3 linked regions of the Homo sapiens genome follow. The protein of the gene in region 3 interacts with the protein of the main gene of each other region in a pairwise test. Each region holds a gene or a part of one and is shown on either strand. Other genes may lie near its edges.

Region 1 (7,260 bases), on a different chromosome or scaffold from region 3:
GCAGATGCTGTGTGCTGGGCACTGTTGGGGGTGGTATGGCGACAGGCAATGGGCTGTGCCCAAGGGGTAAGCTGGGAGAGAAGCAGAATGGGGCCTGGCACTGGGGGAGGCCCCTGCCGCCCCGCCCCCACCCTCACATGGCACAGCCCCCTGAAGCCAACCCAGGCAGCAGCGTCACACCCTGTCACGTGCCCGTCACTCTCCCTGCTGTCTGGGAGGGTGGGGACACCCAGTGGCCTTGGCCAAGCACAGGCTGCAGGCGCACAAGGAGTCAGCAGGGGTGGTGTCAGCTCTCACCGGAGGGGGCCACAGGGGCTGCGTCTTCCGGTTCTTCCCACGGGTCCTGGAAGGAGCCAGAGACCATCAGGCCTTGGGGAAATAGGAGGGGCAGGACCCCACTGCCACCCGGAGCCCCGAGGAGAGGTGGCGCTCACCCAGGAGCCCAGCAGCTGGGAGTGAGTCTCCTGCACACTGTGGACAAAGTCTCTTCCTTTTGACCGGAGCAGGAACTGACAGCTGCAGATGCCCCAGAGATGTAGGTTGGGGTTCAGGGCCCCCACTGTCTGCTTCAAGCCCTTGGATCCCCGGGGGTCAGGGTTGGGCCCCCTCCTCCCGCCACCCTGCAGTGCCCGTGGGCATGGGCGAGGAGGGCTGCTGTGGAGACGCCTCCATGGGGCTTCAGGGTAGTCCCATGGGAGAGGCATTTCTGCCCCCAGCAGCCCTTCCGAAAAGGGGCCCTCACAGGAAAAGTGGGTACCTGCCGGCCAGAAGCACCTCCCACAGAAGGGCCTCCCCAGTGCCCTGTGGGGCCAGGGAGGCAAAGCAGGCCTGGTGTTGGGTCGACAGAGCCGTTGGGGGCCCACCCCCTACCCATGATCAGACCCGGGGCCCCGCAGGGGCAGCCGGTACCTGGGGAACCACTTGGCATGCTCCGTCCAGGGGTCGTCCCCGCGCTTCCAGCTCTGCAGGCCCCCATAGCAGAAGAAGCACCTCACCTTGTCCTGATGGCCTGGGGTGCGGAGAGATGCTGGCCCCAGCCAAGTCCCACCCAGTCCCCGGGCCCCCGGTGTGTCCTTCCAAGGCTATGAGAGCTTCAGCTGGAGGGGAGCTCCCAGGTGGCAAGAAGGAGGAGGGGGTGGGCAGGGGGCTTGGTGGGGGATGTCACTTGTACCTCATTAGCATCAAAGGTGAAAAGGGGACAAGGGTGACTGGGGTGCCGGCCAGGATGGGCGAGAATGTTCAGGAAAGGACTGAGCTGGCATTTGCATTGTTCCCAGAGTGAGCAGTGGGGGCCCCCCAGGGCTTGGTACATCTATAGCCCTGGGGCTTCAGGAGCCAGAAGGGCCCCTCCCCAGGTCTCTGCTTCCCCAAGATGGATTCCCAGTGAGAAGAAGAAGGGAGGCTGCCCTAGAAGGCCAGTCTGGGGCCAGGCTTGCTTTTAGGAACTCATGCCTCCCTTTGGGGGTGGGGGACCCGTCATCTCTCTACCTCCTGGCGACCCCGTCCCCTCATCGGCATCCATGCGATACGTCACCTGCCACTGACATCACAGGTTTGGGCTGCATCGGGCACTGGACCTCTACCAGCCCCAAAGACCCCGGCTCTGCACCTGCCATGCCTCTTGCCTGGCCTTTGCCTCCTGAGCCTTGGACTTCCAGGGAGGTGGGTGAGCTGGGCCTGCCCCTTCACGCCACGGCTTCTGACTGTCCCAGCCACTGTCCCCCCGACCAGCTGTCTTAAGTTGGTCCAGCCTTACCAGGATGGTGCCCCGCCAGAGCCCACTGCTGACAATGACCATGGCTGTGCCAGTATTTGTAAAGCCCTCGGTGGGCCCTGCTGCCCTGTCCTTCAGCCAGGAAGTGGCAGAGCTGGGACCTGAACTCAGGTCTGACCACATGGTCTGCAGCTGTAGGGCAGAGGAGCAGGCCCGGGCCAAGACTAGGATAGGTACTCCGGGGACTTGATTCAGTTGGGGAAGACCAGACAGTAGCTGCAGGTTGGGGCCTGGAGAAATTCCCCACAGGCTGAGCATCCAGGACCTTCTGGCTGACCACTGCCTGCCTTGGTCACCCTGATCCTGTTCTTTAAACATCTCCTCTCCCTGTGCAGAACAGCAGCGGGGAAGGTGAGGGCCCCAGGCAATGTCAGCCCCACCCACTTCTATCACAAAGGGGTACTTGTGCACCAAGCTGGCGGCCTCCACAGCTGAGACCCTCAGACTGTGGCCAGAGGCAGCCCCTCCTCACATCCCACGGTCTGAAACACTCAGCCAGCAGAGACTCCGGGGGAGGGTGTCAGGCACGAGCCCATGGGCACTGGAGGGGCTTGCAGGACCACTGCTCCGTCATCAGGCCAGACCCTTCCTGTTGGGGGATGGATGCTACGGAGGAGGCAGAGCCCTGGGCTGGAAGGGTCCAGAATCGTGCCCAGGCCCACGGCAGGAAGGCCCCCCCGCCCGGGACTGACCTGTGTGGAAGAAGCCGGCAGCAGCCAGCAGCTCGGGTGGCACCTCAGCAGTCAGCGGCCAGTCATAGAAGGAGGCCAGACGCAACTCCTCAGAGCCCATGCCGGGGAAGGCAGGCCCCCTGGACAAGGTGGCCCCGGCGCCCTCCTCCTCTTCCTCCTCTGTCAGGGGCCGCAGCTGGCCCAGGATCTGCCCATCCACGTGGTCCCAGGCTCTGCAGGTGTCCAGGCCTAGGACAGGGCTGCCCAGAGAGCGGGGTCCACAGCGCTCCTGCGTGGGACCATCACCGGCTGCCCAGTGGCTCGGCTGTGGTCCACGGTGCAGGCACTTGGCACTGTCTTTAGGTCCCATGGAGGGAACACTGGCTCTGACCAGGTTTGCAGCAGAAATGGGGGCTGATGGCCAATCTCAGAATATGCCCAGCTGGCCCTTCTGGAGCTCCTGACCCCCGGGGCCCACCCTGGGGACAGCAGGGATAGGCACAGGCCTGCCACCAGACACCCTGGGAGGGGAGTATCCCAGGGCCCACAGCTTTCTGGAAGTGGCCAGGGTGGCCTCTGGGGTCACATGCTCTGTGCAGCGGGGGCGTGTCACGGGGCCCCTGGCAGGGTTGCGGATGCCGCTGACTGCACGTGGGCAGGCCACGTCTCTCTGAACAAGACGGGAAGGAACTGAGCATGGAGACCCCTCCCCAGGCTGGTGTCTGCCCCAGGGCTGTGGGGGAGGGGTTGGGGAGCTGGAGATGATGGCTCCAAGGTCAGGCGCCCAGGGCAGCCTCCGGAAGCAGAGAAGGCTCAAGGAAGGACATGTGAGCTGTGCTGCCTGTGCAGGCAGGGGCCGTGACCTCCCACCTTGCGGGGGTGACTCTAGCCTCACAGGGGCCTAGGGCTGCGTCACGCAGAGCAGGGAGGCAGGTCACCCGGCTGTTCTCTGAAACATCCCTCTGCCCCAAGGGGCCTCTGCAGGTCTGGGAGCAGCTCTTGTCCTCAGGCCAGGAAGATCAGAGCAAAAAGAAGGGCCCGAGCTGCCCTCACCTCCCGCTCCCCCTTCCCCCATCTCCCTCCACCTCCCTCCATACCAGCCTCCCCAGGTAGCCAAGGGAGAGGCTCTGATGCCCCCAAAAGAGGAGTACTCAGTGTTGGCACTGGAATCGGAGTTCCTGAGGTCTGCTGTGACCCTGGCTGCCGGTCCAAGCTCCACACTGTGCCACACTGCCAAACCCCACAGTGAGGGAACAGGGAGGAGGACTTAACCCCAGAGAAGCCAGGGGCAGAACAGGAACCCCAGGGACACCTGGGCGGGACAAAAAGGACAGCTGGATGGGGCCCAGACTTCGACACCCCCCAACCCCCGACTGAGCCCTCAACCCCAGCAAACCCAGCTCATCCACCCGGCTGGCCCTAAAAGCCCCCTGTCATCCTTCAGCCACTCTCCCCTGCTGTTCCGTCCTGGATGGGAGCGTGCAGGCTCACAGAGTTTGGAAGAATAAAGAGGAGTCGCACGCTGCAGGGCCGCTGGTTGCCACGGGGAGCGCAGGTGGGCAGGAGAGGGTTAGCTGCAGTGAAAACCGTCCCTGAGCTCACCTGGAAGCCTGGCCCGTTCTCTTCCCACTGCTGAGCCGCATAGACCCAGCTGCTGCCCACCACACTTTCACACCTGCCCCCCGACCCCCACTCACGGCGGGGGCTGGGGCTGCACCCGCCCTCCCAGGAGGCCTCTGGTGACTGTTCTGGTCATACTCAGGCCAGTGTTGCCAGGCCCCAGCGAGACCCCCAACCCTTTCCTATGCAAGGCCCAGAGCCACCTGGTTTCCTGCAGAAATCAAAGTGAAGGGTGTGGCTGGAAACCCCTCCCAGGCTCTTAAGGCCTCTGGGGTGTCTGCAGGCCCTGCTGAGGATAGAGCCCAGAAGCCAGGGCTGCAGGGCGCAGAGGGAGAGGCAGCAGGAAGCTCAGGGGCATAGGAGGGGAGGGCTGTCGGGAAAGGGCCTGAGGGCCAGCAAAGGAGTTAGGCTAGACACAAGGTAGAACTTCCCAGTGTGTTTTCTGGGATGATCTCAGGGTACCTCGCCTTCGCCCCCTCTCTGTCCTCCAGTGCCCACCTCGCCTTCGCCCCCTCTCTGTCCTCCAGTGCCCACCTCGCCTTCACCCCCTCTCTGTCCTCCAGCGCCCACCTCGCCTTTGCCCCCTCTCTGTCCTCCAGCGTCCACCACACCTTCGCCCCCTCCCTGTCCTCCAGCGACCACCTCGCCTTCACCCCCACGTCCTCCAGCGCCCACCTCGCCTTCGCCCCCTCCCTGTCCTCCACCGCCCCCTCAGCACAGCGGTTACCTTTGGTCACTTCAGCAAAACCCCGGGTGTGGGCCTGGGGCCCTTTCAGGAGGACGTGGGCCTCAAGCTGGGTGGATTTGCTGCCTGGTTCCCAGTCTGCCCGCAGTGCACCGGGGAGGTGGGAAGAGGGGCCACTGTCTCCAGCCTGCTTCTTCCAGGGGAGAGACACATGCAGCACCCAGGTTTGCTCTGAACTCTCAAGCTGGGGACCCTCTGAGGTGGGCAGGCAGCAGAGGCCGCTGCCATGGCCTGTTATGGGACCCTCTCTTCCCACTGCTTGGGGCTCGGAGAGGAGACAAGGTTGGTGTCACTCCTGGAAGTGGAAGGAAAGGCCCTGGGGCCCACTGGGGAGTTGGGGTTAGCTGGGCCATAAGCCGAGCCCCGCTCCTCCGGTGGGATCGCCCCGAGGTCCTGTGCACCTCCAAACCCAGCAGGTGTTTCTCCACACGCATCGCAGTGCCATCCCAGTGCGTAACTGTGCAGGGAGCTGCTGAGGGGCGCTCAGCTGCTTTGCCGTGTGCGGCCGGCCCAAAATTCTCAAAACAAGGACTATCCATATGTTGCTTATTTAATTAAATAAAAAGAAATAAGGAGCTAAAAATAATGGTCATGTGCCTATTCCAGAAGTGTCGGGAATACTGGGAGTATAAAGAAAGCGAAGTTCGATGTCTGAGCCATCCCTGTGGGCACCGGGGCGTGTGTGTCTGGATTTGGCAGTTGCCCTGCAGCTTTGCAGGATGATACCGTGGGGTGGGGCAGGGTGCATGGACACCTCTAGGCTTCTTTGCAATTCTGCATCTACAATGATTTCCAAATAAAAGCTGGGAAAACCCATATGCCTTCTCCCCGCTGAGCGGTAAGCACTGCTGTTACTATTTTGCTGTTTTCTTCCAAACATACCCTAAACATCTTTATTTGCTATTTGCCCATTTTTCAAAATGAATAAACATCTGTCAGTACCTAGGAGGGCCCCCTGTGATGCCCCCTGGATCCCTGTGAGTCTTTACAATTAAGTCTCCCAGCTGAGAAGATGTCAGATGGGGAGCCGTGGGGAGAGGCCTCCAGGTCAGTGAGAAAAAAGCCCTGGGCCCAGCAGGGACTCCTAGAAGCCCCAAGACCCCACAGTGACTGGGATTTGCAGCTCCCTGCAAGATTCAGAACCAGCAGGAGTTGGAGGAGAATATCCCCAAATTGCCCCCCACAGTGATGGGGACTAGCCTATTAAGGCAGGAAAAGAGGACCGTCGTCAGGGCCGGGCTCAGCATTCTCCACCAACAGCTCACACCTCCCCCAAAGCCACCCAGCCATCCGGGAAAGTCCACGCCCTGAAACTGCGTGTGGGTGCCACACGAATGAGCCCTGCTCTACTCCATGAAGCCTGGGGTTGGGGCCACGTGGGCAGATAGGTGGACCCGCTGGGCACAGGGTTCGTCTTCCTGTGCAGAGATGGGGGGTCTCAGGAGGGGCCTCCAGAGAAGAAAACATCTCCCCCAGGGCTCATGCCTGACCTTTCACCGCCAGAGCCTCACAGTCTCCTCCTGTTAACTTTTCCTCTGGGAATGCTTTGTGAGTCATTAACACTTTAGTATAAACAAGACTCTCAACTTTCTCAGAAGGAAGTTAGTGGGATTTTTAGACGGGGATGGGATCAGCCTGGGATAAGAGGGCTGAGTCAGAGCCTGTGGAGGTCCAAATGCTCTGAGCAGAAGGTGAAACCGTCAGAGGCATGTGAACCAGAGCAGCTCCGTGTTGAACGGGAGCTGGGTAAAATGGTAAAATGAGGCTGAGACCCACCGGGCTGCATTCCCAGACGGTGAAGGCATTTTAAGTCGCAGGATGAGACAGGAGGTCAGCACAAAATACAGGTCACAAAGACCTTGCTGATAAAACAGGTCGTGGCAAAGAAGCCGACAAAAACCCACCAAAACCAGGATGGTCACGAGAGTGACCTCTGGACGTCCTCACTCTCCACCAGCGCCAGGACAGTTTACAAATGCCATAGCAACATCAGGAAGTTACCCTAGATGGTCTAAAAAGGGGAGGCATGAATAATCCACCCCTTGTTTAGCGTATCATCAAGAGATAACCAAAAAAGTGGGCAACCAGCAGCCCTCAGGGCTACTCTGACTATGGAGTAGCCATTCTTGATTCCTTTACTTTCCTAAGAAACTTGCTTTCACTTTACAGACTCACCCTGAATTCTTTCTTGCAGGAGATCCAAGAACCCTCTCTTGGGGTCTGGATCCGGACCCCTTTCCTGTAACAAAACTGTCTCCACAGGGCTGACAAGAATTGCATGTCGGGTTCTGGACAGAAATATTATTATAATTAAGCATTAATCAGACTGCACGGTGGCCCGCTTTCTCGCTGCTAAACATCACCACGTTGCCCTCGGTCGTGACCACTGTGTTCCCACAGATGCGATCCCTGATATTACAGTCATGAGGCTTTTGTTGATTCCTTAAGAT
Region 2 (7,686 bases), on a different chromosome or scaffold from region 3:
ACAAAACAAGACAAACAGAATTAAAGTATTGAAGTGGGAGTGTTTGGAAAAAGAACAAGATAGGAGCTGTCCCAACTCTCCCACCCAGATGTGGAGCAGGGGAGGGGGATCCCCTCCTCCCAGGGAGCTCATGGTGCAGTGCCCAGCCTGGCCTCCCAGCGGAAGTGCTCACTAGACATCTCAGGGCTGACTGGCCTTAGGTTTGGAGCAGTCAAGGTCCCATTTTCCAGTTCTCAACTTTCTCAGCCTTCTCCCAAGTTTCTTCGTTTTCCCAGCTTCCCAATTCTCCTTTCCCACCTAGGCCCCCAACAATTTCTTCCCCTTCCCTGTTCCCCTGAATCTCACTTGGCCGAGGTGAGCCCCCCATCAAGCAGCAGCTGCTTCCCACTGCCAGAGAGCCCACCCATACAAGGTGGAGGGCTTCCTGGGGAGGTGGGGAGGAAGTTGAGGGCCCAGGTACTCAAAAACTAGGTGCAAGTGGTCGAGGGACAGGAGGGACTGGTGTGCCTTCGTGTTGCAGGCATCTCCAGCTCACAGGAGTGAGGGGACATGAAAGTCTAGCTTCCACAACACTCTCCTTTCGCCATGCACTATCCCAATCCCATGTCTTTCCAGCAGGCCTCTGGGCCAGTCCCTCCCAAGCCACCAGCGCCACGTTGGCAACACTGGCATGATGCCCACGCCCACTGACACTGTCCCTGCCCTGGGTGGACCCAGGATTTCCATGCATCTTATTCCTCAAGACCACAGTGTTTCAATGATGGCTCAAAATAGAGTCTGTTGGGGAGGTGGCAGGATGACAGTCTGCTCCCATTGCAGCTACGGGTAGACCCCTGGCTGGATACAGAGTGTGACAAGGGACGTGGTGTCCATCTGGTTGGCTTGCATGCTATTCCCCCAAACTCAGCCACAAATTCACTATCTCACAGCCTTGTGCACACACCATTTATCACTTGGACTCACAGCACTCAGATGGCCCAACTTACACACACACACACACACACACACACACACACACACACACACACTCTCAGGGCCTGTGGCACCCTCGACTGCACCCTAACGATTACACTCAGGCCAATGAACACAGGTGTTAAAAGACTCCTGCCCCATCTCACAAACACACACCTCTCCCACAGGTTGAGTGAGTTGGCTTCCTGTTTGGCCCAGCACCCCTGGGCCTGAGCTAGGGCACTGGGAAGAGAGATGTGGGACCCAAGAATAGGGAAGAGTCAAGGCTACTGAAGGGGACTGACTTTCAGGGAGGGCCCTCTGGCCCTAAATTCCTGCAGAGAGACCCAGAAAGCAGGACAGAGATGGTGACAGAGGAACAGTGTCAGAGACCCAGAAGCAGGGAGGAATCTGGCCCTGAGTGGCTGTGAGCCCTGCCTTCCCAACTCTGTGCCTTGGGTCCCCCAGAAGCCAGAGTAGAGTCAGAAATTTCTCAAGACCCCAAACCCTGACCCCAGTGGTACCCCAATTCCCTTTGTCCCCAGCACCAGAGGCAAGGGATGCTGGGGTCCCAGCCCGGAGGGGAAGTGGCCCAGTCCGCCCTGGAGCCTCCCACTCCCAAAATAGAGCTGAGTTTGTCTTTGGCTGAAAGCTAAATATTTGTAAGCCGGGCAAGCGGCCTCAGACCCCGTCCCTCCTCCTTGGTTCCCTCACAGGCCTGGGCTCAGTTCCCCTGGTCAGCTCCCCCACAGGCACAGGCTGGCCTCCTCCTTTCTCTCATAGCCTACCTCCTCTCCTCCACACACCAGCTCACGGGCCCAGCCCCCTCCCCACAAAACCAGGCAAGATCCTGTCTGGGCTACGAGTCCCAGGAGACGGGACCCCTAAAGAGCTATACCCAGTTGCTGCTCTGTGCCCACTCAGCCAGTCCTCTCTGCCTTCTATCTCTTCTGCCAGCTTATGTATTTCCCACCCCTCTCTCCTCACTCCCCCTCGCCCCCCTCCCCCTCCTTTCTCCATCGCTTTTCCACTCCTCACAGTCAGTGTGCTTAGCTGACCTTAGGTAGGGGTCCATGCCTTCTTCTGACCTAATCCCCTCTCACCCTCTTTCCACTGCCCTCTGACCCCTGGCCCTATTCTTCCCTCCCTTTTCTCCTGCCCTCTGCTTCCCCTTTCTTGGACCCCACTCCTCTCTCCTCATCAGAAGGACCCCTGGAATTGACAAGCACCACAGCTACTATCTATGTGAGTTGGAGGAGGTGGGTGGGCAAGGACTAGGACCATTAAGGTTGTGGCTGGTTTCCTGGGGGGAAGAGGGGACAGTTACCTCAAGCAGGGAGGACGCCATCCTGAGGCTGGGGAACGGGTCCCAAGGAGCCAGGCAGATGGAGAGAGCTGAGCCGGGGGGTGGGGGGGGTAGAGAGAGAAAAGGGAGAGGGAGGGAGAATGGGAGAATGGGAGAGAAGAGATCTAAAGTTAGAAGGGACCGGGGTGGGGGGCTGCTCTCTGTCTGTAGGGATCCACCCTCTAATTACAGCTTTCCCAGCGGAGAAGGCTCCAGATCCAATGAGGAGGGCGAGAGAGGGAGGCAGAGGGTCCAAATTTCCTGCTCCATTTGCTGAGCTCCCCAAAGAAGGGATCAGGGAGGGAGAGGAGAAAAAGGGGCGCCCATGGAAGGGGTGGGAAGCAGGAAGAGGGGAGAGCAGCATGGGCAAGTTGTCAGGGCTTCCTCGGGGGGCTGCTGAGGGGAGAGGTTAAAGGGATGGTGGACCCCGGTGTCCTACACGCGGCAGCAGTCCCATAGGCATCTGTGGGCACCCCTCCCAGAGCTCCCCAGTGTCATGTACCTGGGGGAACCTGGGGCTGGCTGTCCCGAGTCTCTCCTCTCTGGAGGTCTGGCAGGGAGAGTGCAGGCAACGGGTGGCCTGAGGGTGCTGGGAGGGATCCGCTCTCTCCCAGGCCAGCTCCACTCCTGTTCCACTCAGGCTCCGGTCCTACAGTCCTACTCTGACTCCAGAGTCCTTGCTGCTGCTCGGCGGCTGCTGCTTCTGCTACTGCTGCTGCCTAGGCTGCTGCCGCCCGCCGCTGCTGAGGGAAGGAACAGGAGGGAAAAGGAACAAACCCCAAACCACTAATTAGAGATCCAGGGGGGGGATGGGGGGTTGGGGACGACACTCACACAGAGAGACTGGAACGCACTGACATACACACTCATGGCCAAACACAGGGGTGATGCATGCACACGTACACACAGTACCACTCACATGGGTACAGCCACTATCATGAATGAACACAGACGGACACACACAAATGCACACAGTGACGCACTGGAGGCACACGCACCACACCCGCCCCAGCTGACCATGGAGAGGCTTGCTTCCCCAGTCACCCACCTGCCTCTAGATCAGGAGAGCAGTGTGTATGTGCCCCTGTGTGTGTGTACGTGCCCGTGTGTGTGTGTGTGTGTGTATGTTGTGGGAAGAGGCATGGAAGGTTCTGAGGTGGAGGTTTCTGCTGCCTAAACTTTTAGTGTCACTGAGGTTGGTTCCAGAGCAAGGCCTGGAGGAAGGGTTGAAGAGTTGGGGAAGGCTTGGTATTGGCTTGGGGGTCCCTCAGTCTTCCTCCCAGTGCCTCAGTTTCACTGTTTGGAGGTGATACCTAGGCCTACCTCACTTTGTGGGGCAGAACCTGGATCTTCTGATGAAGAGAAAATTTAAGACAAGCAGGAGTGAGGGTGGCGGTAGAAGGTCATTGGGTCAACTCATTCATGCCGACACCTAACCTCTTTGGATTATTTCCCCCAAAAAGAAATGCCCTAACCTCCATATTCCTTGTCAGTTACCATCCCTGGGTAACCAAGTTACCATCTCTTAGAGACCATGGGTTTAATCTCCATCCTTTGGTGGACAGTTCTCCAGAGTGATCTGACTTTCCTGGGAACTCCTGGTTCCCTTTCTCATTGCCATGCATCAATTCCCTCTTCCACAGAAAGAACTGAAGTTAGAACTTAATAAGGACTTCCCAACAAAATAGGAAGTAAGAGAAGGAAGGGCAGCCAGGTTAGGAGGGAAACCCAAAAAGTCTATTACCTGAAACCTGGGCCATGGGCCCTGAGGTATTTATGGGAGAGAGGACTGGGCAGCTAAGTGGTGACACCGGCAGCTCTCCCACAGGGGGGCTTAGCCCGCTGGGGTTGTTTTACAGGTTATTCCTTAACACACACTTCTCCCCCTCCCAGCTCTCCCTGTCAGGGGAATAAAGCCCCATCCTTTCCACTCTCCTCACTCTGCAACACCATCCCCTCACTTTCTCGGAGTGCCCAATTCCTTGCTCCTTTTGCTCTCCCAGATCTCCAAAGAAAAAGCTGGGAGGTGGCAGGAGCAGATGGAGGTCCACGGAGGGTTGCACAGCAGTTTCGCCAGCAGGTAGGCACCAATTTCAGGGTAGGGCCCAGGAGTTCTGGATTCTAGCCCCATGATTTGATTTACCTCAAGGAACTCTGGGAACCCAAGGTTTAGGGGAAGGGTTTGGGAACCAGGTGGCTGATAGACAAAGAGAAAGCAGCAAAAGAAGAAACAGAGCAAATGAAAGAGTCCAAGACAATCAGAAGAGATATCACCAGGTATAAGAGAGAGGAAACAGGAAAACAGAAGACCAGATGTGTGGCTTTAAACAACAACAACAACAACAACAAAAAACAGAGCAGGAAAGAAACTAAAAAGATAAAGAAACAGGCCCAGAGGAACAAAGATGGGGAGACAATGGCTTGGGAAGGACAGAGAAAATAGCCTGAGGCATAGCCAGGTCCGGAGGAGGAGGAGGAGGAGGAGGAGGAGGAGGGTTGTGTTGCCAGGCAGGTGGGGGGGCGGGGAAGGAGTATAAATAGCACATAATTGTGTCCGCTGATTACACGGGCCACCCCACCCGTCTGCCTGAGAGGAAGTGCCCGTGGTGGGGTGTCCCTGTGACCTCGCGGTCTCCCCCTTGTTGGGGGGGAGTCTGAGACTGAGGTGCCAGATGGCTTTCCGGGGCCCCGAACTCAGAAGTTGAGAAAGAGAAGCTTTAGAGAAATTCCTGTATCACCAGCAGAAAAGCCCGACCCAGTTAGATCAGGCAGGAAACTGAGGCAGAGGAGGAGAAAGTCTAGATTCTAAAGAAGAGATAGCAGGTGAGGAGGGGGTTGGGACTCAGATTAGATGAGAGAAGAAAGGAAGAAACTGAAGGGGAAAAGGAGGAAGGATGGAAAGATAAATGGACAGACAGGGCTGGGGAGAGGAGTTGGAAGGAAGGGTCACCTTCTCACTCCCCGTGTGGGCTTTAATCCCTAACCCTACCCGGGAAGGGGCAGACGTATTCAAACCCTACTATTCTCTATTCGAACCCTACTATTCTCGGAGAAATAAAAAGGAGGAGCAGAGTCCCAGGAAGATGTGAGCCAGTGCCCCGATGTGTCAACATAGGACACCCTCTGGACACAGAGCCTCTTCCCCACCAGAGATCAGCGCCAAAGATAGGCAGAGGGGCTGCCTGAATCCCCCAGCTGCTGCCCTCAGGAACCCCTGGGTTCTGACTTCTCCATGTCCTTTTTAAAAATAGTCCTGCAGCCCAGCTGAGGCTCTGGTGTTCCTGGGTCCAGCTCCCCAGTCTCCTTCCCAGTGCCCTGAGGGGCTGGGGGCAGCAATTGGAAGCCCTAACCAAGGACCTACCTCCACCCTCTCAGGCCTCCCTCAGCCCAGCCTCCCAGGGGGTGGGGCAGACCAGGGAGAGGCGCCATGTGGCAGGGGCGGGTAGAGGCTGCGGCTCTGGTCCTTCCAGTATAAACCCCCTAGGCATCTGGTTTCTATCCACCACCCCCCACCACCCTGGGGGCCCCTCAGCCTCCGCCCATGGCCACCCAGACGCTGAGCTCCAAGGGATGGATGCCCCAGACGGAAGGGGTGGGATGATGCCTTTCTGATATCCCAATGCCAGGACTGGGCTGAACCACAGGAACCATTCCCTTCCCACCCTCCCCTAGGAGAATCAGGGTGGGCTTTGTAGGTTAGAGGGGGTTGAATCTGGCACCTGCCTCAGTTCTCCAAATGATTTTGGATCTTTTTGGAAAGATCAGTGGGGTGAAAACAGAATGAAAACTGGGGAGAGTGGGGCCGGGTGCAGTGGCTCACGCCGGTAATCCCAGCGCTTTGGGAGGCCAAGGTGGGTGGATCACCTGAGGTCAGGAGTTTGAGACAGCCTGGCCAACATGGTGAAACCCCGTCTCTACTAAAAATACAAAAATCAGCTGAGCGTGGTGACGGGTGCCTGTAATCCCAGCTACTTGGGAGGCTGAGGCAGTAGAATCACTTGAACCCAGGAGGTGGAGATTGCAGTGAGCTGAGATCATGCCATTGCACTCCAGCCTGGGCAACAAGAACAAAACTCCATCTCAAAAAAAAAAAAAAAGAAAGAAAAAAAAAACTGGGGAGAGTGGGAGACCTGTACCCCCTATTCCCAAGGGATGCTACTTCCATCGTCCACACCATCACCCTCTACCACCTTTCTAGGCTGGGCTGTCTCTAAGAGCCTCATCCAAAGGGACTCCCAACTCTTCATTGTTGCTGTTATAGAAGGTTTGACTACCCTAGGGAGAATCACCAGAGAATAGTGAGCAGAGCCCCTGAAATAGAGACTGACACATGCCCTAATACATACCTGATGACAGACACATTCAGATCTGCATACTTGCACACACACAAGGTGACACATAATTCATACACATTTGTACTATGCAGGCATCCATATTGACACACACTGATATATACATATACAGATAATGCTTACCCCAAGACACCCTAACCCCCAATCATAAAAATGCACACACCAGTATATATATACATGCATACAGACTCACAGCCACCTAGAATACTCCCCACATGGACTCACAGACTCCCATCAACACACGTATCTACACATGTGGCAAATGTCACATACATATACCCAGGGCTACCATTACAACTTTACAGCCCTGGAGATCTCTGTGGTCTCCTAAAGGGCATTTGGGAACCCCTCTCCCTATAAGGATCTGGAGATAAGGGTGATATGGAGGCCACTGCCAGTCCTGCAAATTGCTGCCTCCAACTCCTACTAGTATAAGAAGTTCCAGTGTACCTTTAGGTACTTTTGATCCAATACTCCACACACACACCAGAGTTCAGAGACCCAGATGGCCCCAGCGAACTCCCTGGTCCTGGGGAACCCCAGCATCCCTACCCCCACCCAGGCCCCCGCTGCTCTGCGGCCCCGCTGACTCATCTCTCCCTCTGTGGAGCTCCCCAACCACAGGGGCCTGGAAGAGAAGCTTGGAAAGTTGCGCTCATGTCCCGGGCCCCTGGTCTGGCCACTACCCGCCCATGCACCCAGCCCAGCCCTTGTCTCCAGTGGATACTCCAGCGACAGAGAACATAGAGGGGACAGGAAAGAAGAAGGCACGCAGAGACAGGGAAACAGAAAGACACAGGAGAGACAAAGAGGAAACAACAAATGGTGGGCATACAGATGAGAGACCCTGAGGATCAGCTACTAGTCTGTTGGGTCCTCTAAGAGCAATGGGGCTGATGACCAGGAAAGCTTGCTCCTTGGGTTGAAGGAACATCCATTCATGGCCTCAGGATTTAGAGACTGCCGAGTGCCTTGACCCAGCATTTCTGACACTAGGCTCAGGGTACTTGGGGAAGAGGATCCAATTTTAGGAGGCAA
Region 3 (7,251 bases):
TTCTACACTCCCCAAATGTGACTCAACTTTCCAAAGTAACTAAGTTGTTTAAACTGTGGTTCCATAGCAAAAATGTCAGTCAGCCTTAAAGACAGGAATGATTAAAATCATGTCCCTTGCTGCACACACACATTACATTTTTGTTTGACCATGAGGTTGATTTTAAGTACTAGAGAGTCGCTAAAACTGAAAGAAATTTTAGATGCCTTGGAAATTATGGGGTTTTATAATAGGCAACTAACAGAAACAGTGCCTGTCTACCTTATGTGAGCAAGAAGGTGAATAATTTAGAAATCATTTAATATGGAATATGATTCATGTTTTATTAACAAGTCAAAGTGATGACAACAAAATTAACCAAATGGAAAGACATCTCATCTTGTAGTCTCTTATTACTTTATTCAATAGGCCTTAAGGAGCTTCTGACCATTTCTTAAGGACAGAAGCCACAGGATATTTTGCTGTGAACATGACATTCATCCCCCTGCTTGCACATTTACACACATACACTGGACTGCAGCGGCTGACCACATGAACTTTGAGGGTAGATAGATACTTCCTATCTTGGGCAAATAACTGACCCCCTGGAAAGCTCAGTTTTCTTATCTCCAAAATGGGAAAAATAGTAACTTCATAGGTTGTTATAAGTATTAAATAAAATTATCAATTTAAGAGAATCCTTAGTATAGGGCATAATATGAACAATAATAGCTAAAATTGAGTTCTTGGCACTATCTTAATTATGTACTTTATAAGTGTCAGGTCATTTCCTGTAAGTAAGTATGAGAGAGGAAGATGCTAATTCTCGGGTGCCTTTATTGTGCTAATGAAGAAACTGAGGCCCACAGTCATACAGCTACTAAGTGCCCAGGCTCACATACCATGGAAAGGCAATGCACGGCAGCTATCATGACTAAATACACACATGCTATGTTAGGTTTTCGAGGATGGTTACAAAGGAAGGCTTTAATTTCAAGTTTTTTTAAGAAAGCATTCTATCTAACTTGGTATGTGGTAAAATTTGACAGTGATGCAAGATGCTTAAAAATTAAGTCAATACGAGTTGATGGGTGCAACAAACCAATATGGCACATGTATACCTGTGTAACAAACCTGCACTTTGTGCACATGTACCCCAGAACTTAAAGTATAATAATAAAGAATAAAAATTAAGTCAATAGTACTGCAAACTTAACATCCCTAAACAAGCTCGGCCAACATAGTGAGACCCCGTCTCTAGAAATAAAATAAAATAGCCAGACATGGCGGCACGTGCCTGTAGTCCCAGCTAATCAGGAGGCTAAGGCAGGAGGATCACTTGAACCCAGAAGGTGAAGACCTCAGGGAGCTATGATGGCACCACCGCACTCGAGTCTGGGCAACAGAGGAAGACTCCCATCTCTAAAAAATAAAAAAATTAAAAATTAAAAAAACCATATCTAAACATAAGTATGACTTCAACTTCCTTAAGTCAGATTAGAAGAGCTTGTGACATTCCTGAGCCCAAAGAGTAAACAAAGGATAGGGGTATAGTTGATGGGCATTTAAACGGCAAGCCTGAGAAAGGAGGCCGATTCTTTAATAGGATTCTGATCTTTATAGTAGAATCCTGTCTGATTCTACTATAAAGTACTTGTGTCAGCTGCAAATTCATGGAATCTGAACTTTCTTATCTGTCAGATGAGATTTTATGAGATCAGTGATTCTCAACCCTGTTACAGATTACAGTCATCCAAGAAGCTGTAAAAAAGTTACCTAGGCCTGGATGTTCCCAGAGATTCGGATCAAACTGCCCTGGGGTGGGAATTTATGAAAGACCCTAAGGGACGCTAATATGCAACCAAGTCTGAGAACCACTAGCTTAGGCCCATTCCGATGTAAAATTACACAGCTCCATGAGCCTCTACAAGATCTGAGACAAAACAGAAATACCTGAAGCAGAATCTTGTTGCCATCGTAGTCCTGAGTCTGCCACCTGGTGCTGCTGATAGGCATGCATGGATTGGGTAGCAGAGGCACTAACTGGCCGATCTCTTGAACCTTAAACTGCAGCACCGAAGACTCTTTGGGGTCCACTGACATTCCCGGGGGCAGCTGCTTCAGGGAGAGCTGCAGAGCAAAGCTCTTGGAGGCATAGAGCACGAAGAAACAAAAATTGCTCTTTTGCAAGGTCGCTTCTCTCTGCAGGATCATCTCGTAGAGTCTGATGGCGTCTTCATAGTTATCAAAACTGCAGTACAGCGTCACCCTCAGGATCTCGGAGCCACAGTGCACCTGCCTCACCCCCCAGATGGGCAGCTGACTGTCCAGGCTGTAGAACTCCTGATTGGCAAAAAAGTAGGGACACAGCCTTCCCCGAGTGTCCTGGGTGGGGTAGCACTGCCATGGCGAATGCTGGAGAGAGTCCAGGACGCGAAATAGCCTATCCTCTCCCGGGCTTTCGTGCAGGAAGAGCAACACGGACATCCCTGGAAACCGGGACCGCTTGGAATGGGACTTTTCACAGTATTTCACAGGACTGGCCCGTTCAGACACCTGAAAGAGCCGGACCTCTGGGCAAATGCAATCCAGGAGCTGGTCCAGAGTCCTCTGCAGAAGGGAGCCGTGCCCAGAGTTGGCAAGAAGATGGACAGTCATGGCCAGAGGCCCCTGTGTCTCATCCATGGAGGAACTGCCTGAGGCTGACAAAGACAGCGTGTGTAGAAGGCCCACTGTTCAAGTTTCTGAAATGAATGAAGAAGCGGCCCAGCCTTCAGCCCGCCTGAAAACCTTCAGCTGCAGCGGCTACTTCTGAGCAGAGCTCTTAACCAGACTAACACGTGCTCCTGGCCACCCGTGGACTTACGGCAAGAGAAGCTCACACCAGCTCGGGTTCAGCAGCCTCCCTCTCCACACAGCAGCAGCGGGGTCACGTCATCCAGCTTGTGCATAATGTAACTGCTTGTGTTTAGCCTTTTCAGGCGTTCCCCAGGGTTTCTGCGTGACCTAAAAACCTATAATCCTGAGAAACACCCAAATGGGCGGCTCTTATAGACACTTAGTACAGGAAATGACCGGCCGAAAAGGAACATGAGTTGGCTCTGTTAGGCTGATAGCAATCTGTTTAGTTGAAAAGACATCCATTTTATCAACTTACAACGGGTTCTCATTTCCTACTTACGGTTTACAGTAGCCTGCTCCACCAATCTGAATACAATGACTTCTTGAAAACAATTCTCAAAACCTGACCCTTTGCCAGTTTTTTTTTTCCTTTGTCTCTTTATTTCATTTTGTTTCTGAACATTTTCTGCTAGGGCACGAAGAGAAGACTTTATCTAAATAATTTTGACTTCACTGAAAATTATTTGCTGTACCGAAAATTCTGAGTGTACTAAAAAGACATTGAGAAAATTAGTCTTCCTTTATTCACGCAAATTCTTTAGAAAGAGTGAGAGCTTTCCTATAATTGCTCATATAATTATAATAATAAATAATTATAATTAACAATTGTAATTATAATTTTTAGTGTCTAATGAGGATCTACTATGTACCAGTCATAAACTGTTCTAATTCTTAAAGTAATTAGTTTTGTTTTGTTTTGGAGATGGAGTCTTGCTCTGTCGCCCAGGCTGGAGTGCAGTGGCGTGATCTTGGCTCACTGCAACTTCCACCTCCCAGGTTCAAGAGATTCCCCTGCCTCAGCCTCCCCAGTACCTGGGATTATAAGTGCGCCAACACGCCCAGCTAATTTTTTTGTATTTTTAGTAGAGACTGGGTTTTGCCATGTTGGCCAGACTGGTCTCGAACTCCTGACCTCAGGTGATCTGCCCGCATTGGCCTCCCAAAGTGCTGGGATTACAGGCATGAGTCACCACACCTGGCCCTTAATGTAAATTAATTTAATCTTGCAACAAACCTATGAAGAAGAGATTACTAGCCCCAAATTACAGATGAAGAAACTGGGGCATAGAAAGGCTAGGTAACTTGCCCAAGGTCTCACAGCTAAGAAGTAGCTGAAGGATGATTTGAACCCAGGAACTTGCTGCACTGCCTCTCTGGGGCCTTGAAGTCCCAGCCTGGGTATTCTTCTTGTAAGGAAAAGATATAAAAGCAAGTTCTGGTTAAGGATCTAGATTTGCAGACTCTTGAGCTGTTGAATCTTAAACGGAATAATCTTCAATGAGAAAGTTGTCAAGCTCTAAACACTCACCCTAAATGTGTTCTAAATATTGATTTAAAAATTATTTGTGGCCACGCATAGTCGTCACGCCTTGATCCTAGTACTTTGGGAGGCCGAGGCGGGTGGATCACCTGAGGTCAGGAGTTCGAGACCAGCCTAGGCAACATGGCAAAACCCCGTCTGTACTAAAAACACAAAAATTAGCCGGGCAAAGTGGAGCATGCCTGTAATCCCAGCTACTCAGGAGGCTGAGGCACAAGAATCACTTGAATCCAGCAAGTGGAGGTTGCAGATCGCACTACTGCACTCCAGCCTGGGTGATAGAGCAAGACTCCGTCTCAGAAAATAAAAAATAATAAAAATAAATAAATAAATAAATATTTTTAAAAAATCATTTGCTCTCCTGATAGCTGTGCTCCTCAACAGGTATGAACAAGCACTTTTTCTAAACACAATTCTTTTTAAAAGAGGCAATTGGACCAGGCGAAGTGGCTCACAACTGTAATTTCAACACTTTGGGAGGCCAAAGCAGGACAATCGCTTGAGCCCAGGAGTTCCAGGCTGTGCTGACCTAAATTCATGCCACTGCACTCCAGCCTGGACAACAGAGCAAGACCCTGTCTCAAAGAAAAAAAATGTACTTCAAAAAGAGCTGTAAAAAATTAAAATAAAAGAGGCAAATTTATGAATCCTTATAATGAAACACAGTGTGACAATTTTTTACATTAAAAAATACTTTTGTGATGAAAAATATAACAACTTTATATATCTGGATTCCTTTAATAGTATAACAACCTAATTTAAAGTAAAATATTATTATCCAAGAAAAGGAGTTATTTCTATTCAGATTCACTATGTAAATCTAACGTACAATTCTAATCATTTGTGTTTCATAATTCCTGTACTTTTTGCATGGGAAAAATACATAAATACAATTTATAACAGAGGAATTGTTTCCTAGTTATTGTGAGCAGCTCAGTAATTAAATTCATCTTGTTTCAACTTTTAAAAAAATCATTAGAGGTTTTTTTTTTTGGCATTACAAATCTCAAGCTTTTTTAAAAAAAACTCGACAGCATTCATGTTATGCATTGGCATTGGAAGCAGATAACTATCTCATCTCTCAGTGTGAACACTCTCCCTTCCGCAACCCTTCCATTCACAGAGCTGATTGTACTTTAGACAAAACTATAGTTTTTGAAATAGGCTTTGAAATTCTGGAAATAACTCTAAAGATTTGAGGAGAAAAATTGTTCCCCTGAAACCACGATATTAACTCACAACATTTTGCACAAGGTAAGTATTAAAGCTCTTACATAGGAAAAGATTTTGTTTCTTGATATTATCTTCCATCTAATGCTGAAAATACACTTTTTTCCTGATGAGGTTGTCATTTCTTTCAGGATTGAAAAGATTTCATTAATCTGTTGGCAGCCAAAGTGCCAACAAATCCAAGGGGCAGGAGGCCAGGGAAGAGGGGGACCAGCCTCATTTCTGACTGGCTGTCTCTGTGATTATTTCCCCAGGAACAACGTGAAATACTGACTGACCTTCCCCAAACTGCCTCCACCTTTGGTCACTGCCTTCCACCCACAACAAATGCCAGATTCTCAGCTGTGCAGCACAACAGTGTTTTAGCATGGTGCTTCTGTTGAAGGCACAGACAAAAATACTAAGGGAAATCATCAGCTTTGACTCTCAGCACCCGGACAGCTGTCACTCCAATTCTCTATCTTATTTTTCTTAAACTTGGCAGGCAATGATGCCCAGGTTTCTGCAGTCATCAGCTCCTGGATGGCAGATGGTTGGTCCACTCCTCACAGCAAATGGAGAGGCTGGTGATGAGTCGCTCAAGCAAACCTAGAAAATCCGAGGCTCCATTGGAACCCATGAAAATCCTCGGGGATTTGTCCTTTCTACAAAATACAATGGGATGCATTATAACCTCGAGATTCCCACCCACCCCCAACCCAGGAAAACTCTGAGAAAAAGTTCCTTTCCATCTTTAATTTATAAAATATGTTTATCTCACATGTCAAGAGCCAGGCGTTGCACCAGGAGCAGAAGATAGAATCGTCACCATCCCCCACTTTGGAGGGGCACCCTAAATGATGCAGTCAGTGCCATGATAAAGGGTGCTGCAGGATGTATGGAGACCCCATGGGGAGACACTGAGTTAGACGAGGGGGCCAGGACTGTCACACACTGGTGCAACTGCAAGCAGTTCAAGGTGGCTGGAGTGGAGGTTCAATGAAGAGGAGGGTGGAAGGAAGCCAGGGGCCTGATCAGGAAGGGCCTTGCAGAACACTTTATTTGAATCTGACCAGAACCACCTAAAAGTCAGTATGAAAAGGGAAGTGATGCTTTGAGGAAGCCACGGACACAGCAAGATATGCAGTCAAAGGACAGGTTTGTTGGCTGGTTGGATGCAGGCAGAAAACCGTGGTGGCTAGTCCAGGAGGCATTCCAGGGTGGTACTTGCAGATGTTTGGGTGAAGCTGTCAGTCACCAGATAAGGAATACTGGAAAGGAGGGCAGTTAGGAGTGAGGATGAGGAGGGCAGGGTGGTTGTGTTGTGCATGGATGCCCGTGGGATGGCCAGAGTTGAGATGTCCAGTGGCCTGTTCACTACAGCTTTGAAGGGAACAGTAAACCAGAGAATAGGAATTGGGGAACTGCTGGTCTTCAGGCAGCCATGGGAAAGGATGTGACTACCCAGAAAGAGAAGACACAACAAGGACAGAAGAAGGAAGAGGATAGGATTCCAGGAGTACCCAGTTTAAGAGACAAGCAATGTTTAAGTGGCACCCAGGGCAAAATGGAGAGTGGAGTGTGTTATGAGGACTTCAGAACATGGCTTTGGCTGGGCAGACAGCATCATTTAGTGTTTCAGGCTAACATTTGTGACTCATTTCCCCTTCTCAATTAGGCAAACTCAAAGAAGCAGCTGTCACCAAGCGAACCTCAGAGCCATTCAAGCCTCTGTTTTCCTCGTTCCCAAACAACCTTAACTCTGGTTCTTTGTGTGATACTCACTTGCTAACCAGGGGCGAGGCATTCTAGAACCTGGGGCACTACTTGGAGAAAAGGTG

What was found. Proteins that work in one complex are often made in the same cells at the same time.
Region 1: the proteins of FAM124B (region 3) and BIRC7 interact in binary tests that used the Homo sapiens proteins (3 or more experiments, as listed by UniProt).
Region 2: the proteins of FAM124B (region 3) and SP7 interact in binary tests that used the Homo sapiens proteins (3 or more experiments, as listed by UniProt).

What each region holds. Positions count from the first base shown.
Region 1 is NC_000020.11:63,231,652-63,238,911, reverse strand, and holds the start of BIRC7 (baculoviral IAP repeat-containing protein 7), read right to left. Parts: upstream 3,008-7,260; 5' UTR 2,816-3,007; coding exon 2,467-2,815; exon of another isoform or gene 1,010-2,466; coding exon 910-1,009; intron 517-909; coding exon 435-516; intron 344-434; coding exon 298-343; intron 134-297; exon of another isoform or gene 70-133; intron 1-69.
Region 2 is NC_000012.12:53,333,348-53,341,033, forward strand, and holds the start of SP7 (transcription factor Sp7), read right to left. Parts: upstream 3,008-7,686; 5' UTR 2,799-3,007; intron 2,430-2,798; exon of another isoform or gene 2,347-2,429; 5' UTR 2,300-2,346; coding exon 2,279-2,299; intron 1-2,278. UniProt on the Homo sapiens protein: Transcriptional activator essential for osteoblast differentiation. Binds to SP1 and EKLF consensus sequences and to other G/C-rich sequences.
Region 3 is NC_000002.12:224,399,105-224,406,355, forward strand, and holds the start of FAM124B (protein FAM124B), read right to left. Parts: upstream 3,004-7,251; 5' UTR 2,665-3,003; coding exon 1,933-2,664; intron 1,402-1,932; coding exon of another isoform or gene 1,315-1,401; exon of another isoform or gene 1,273-1,314; intron 1-1,272.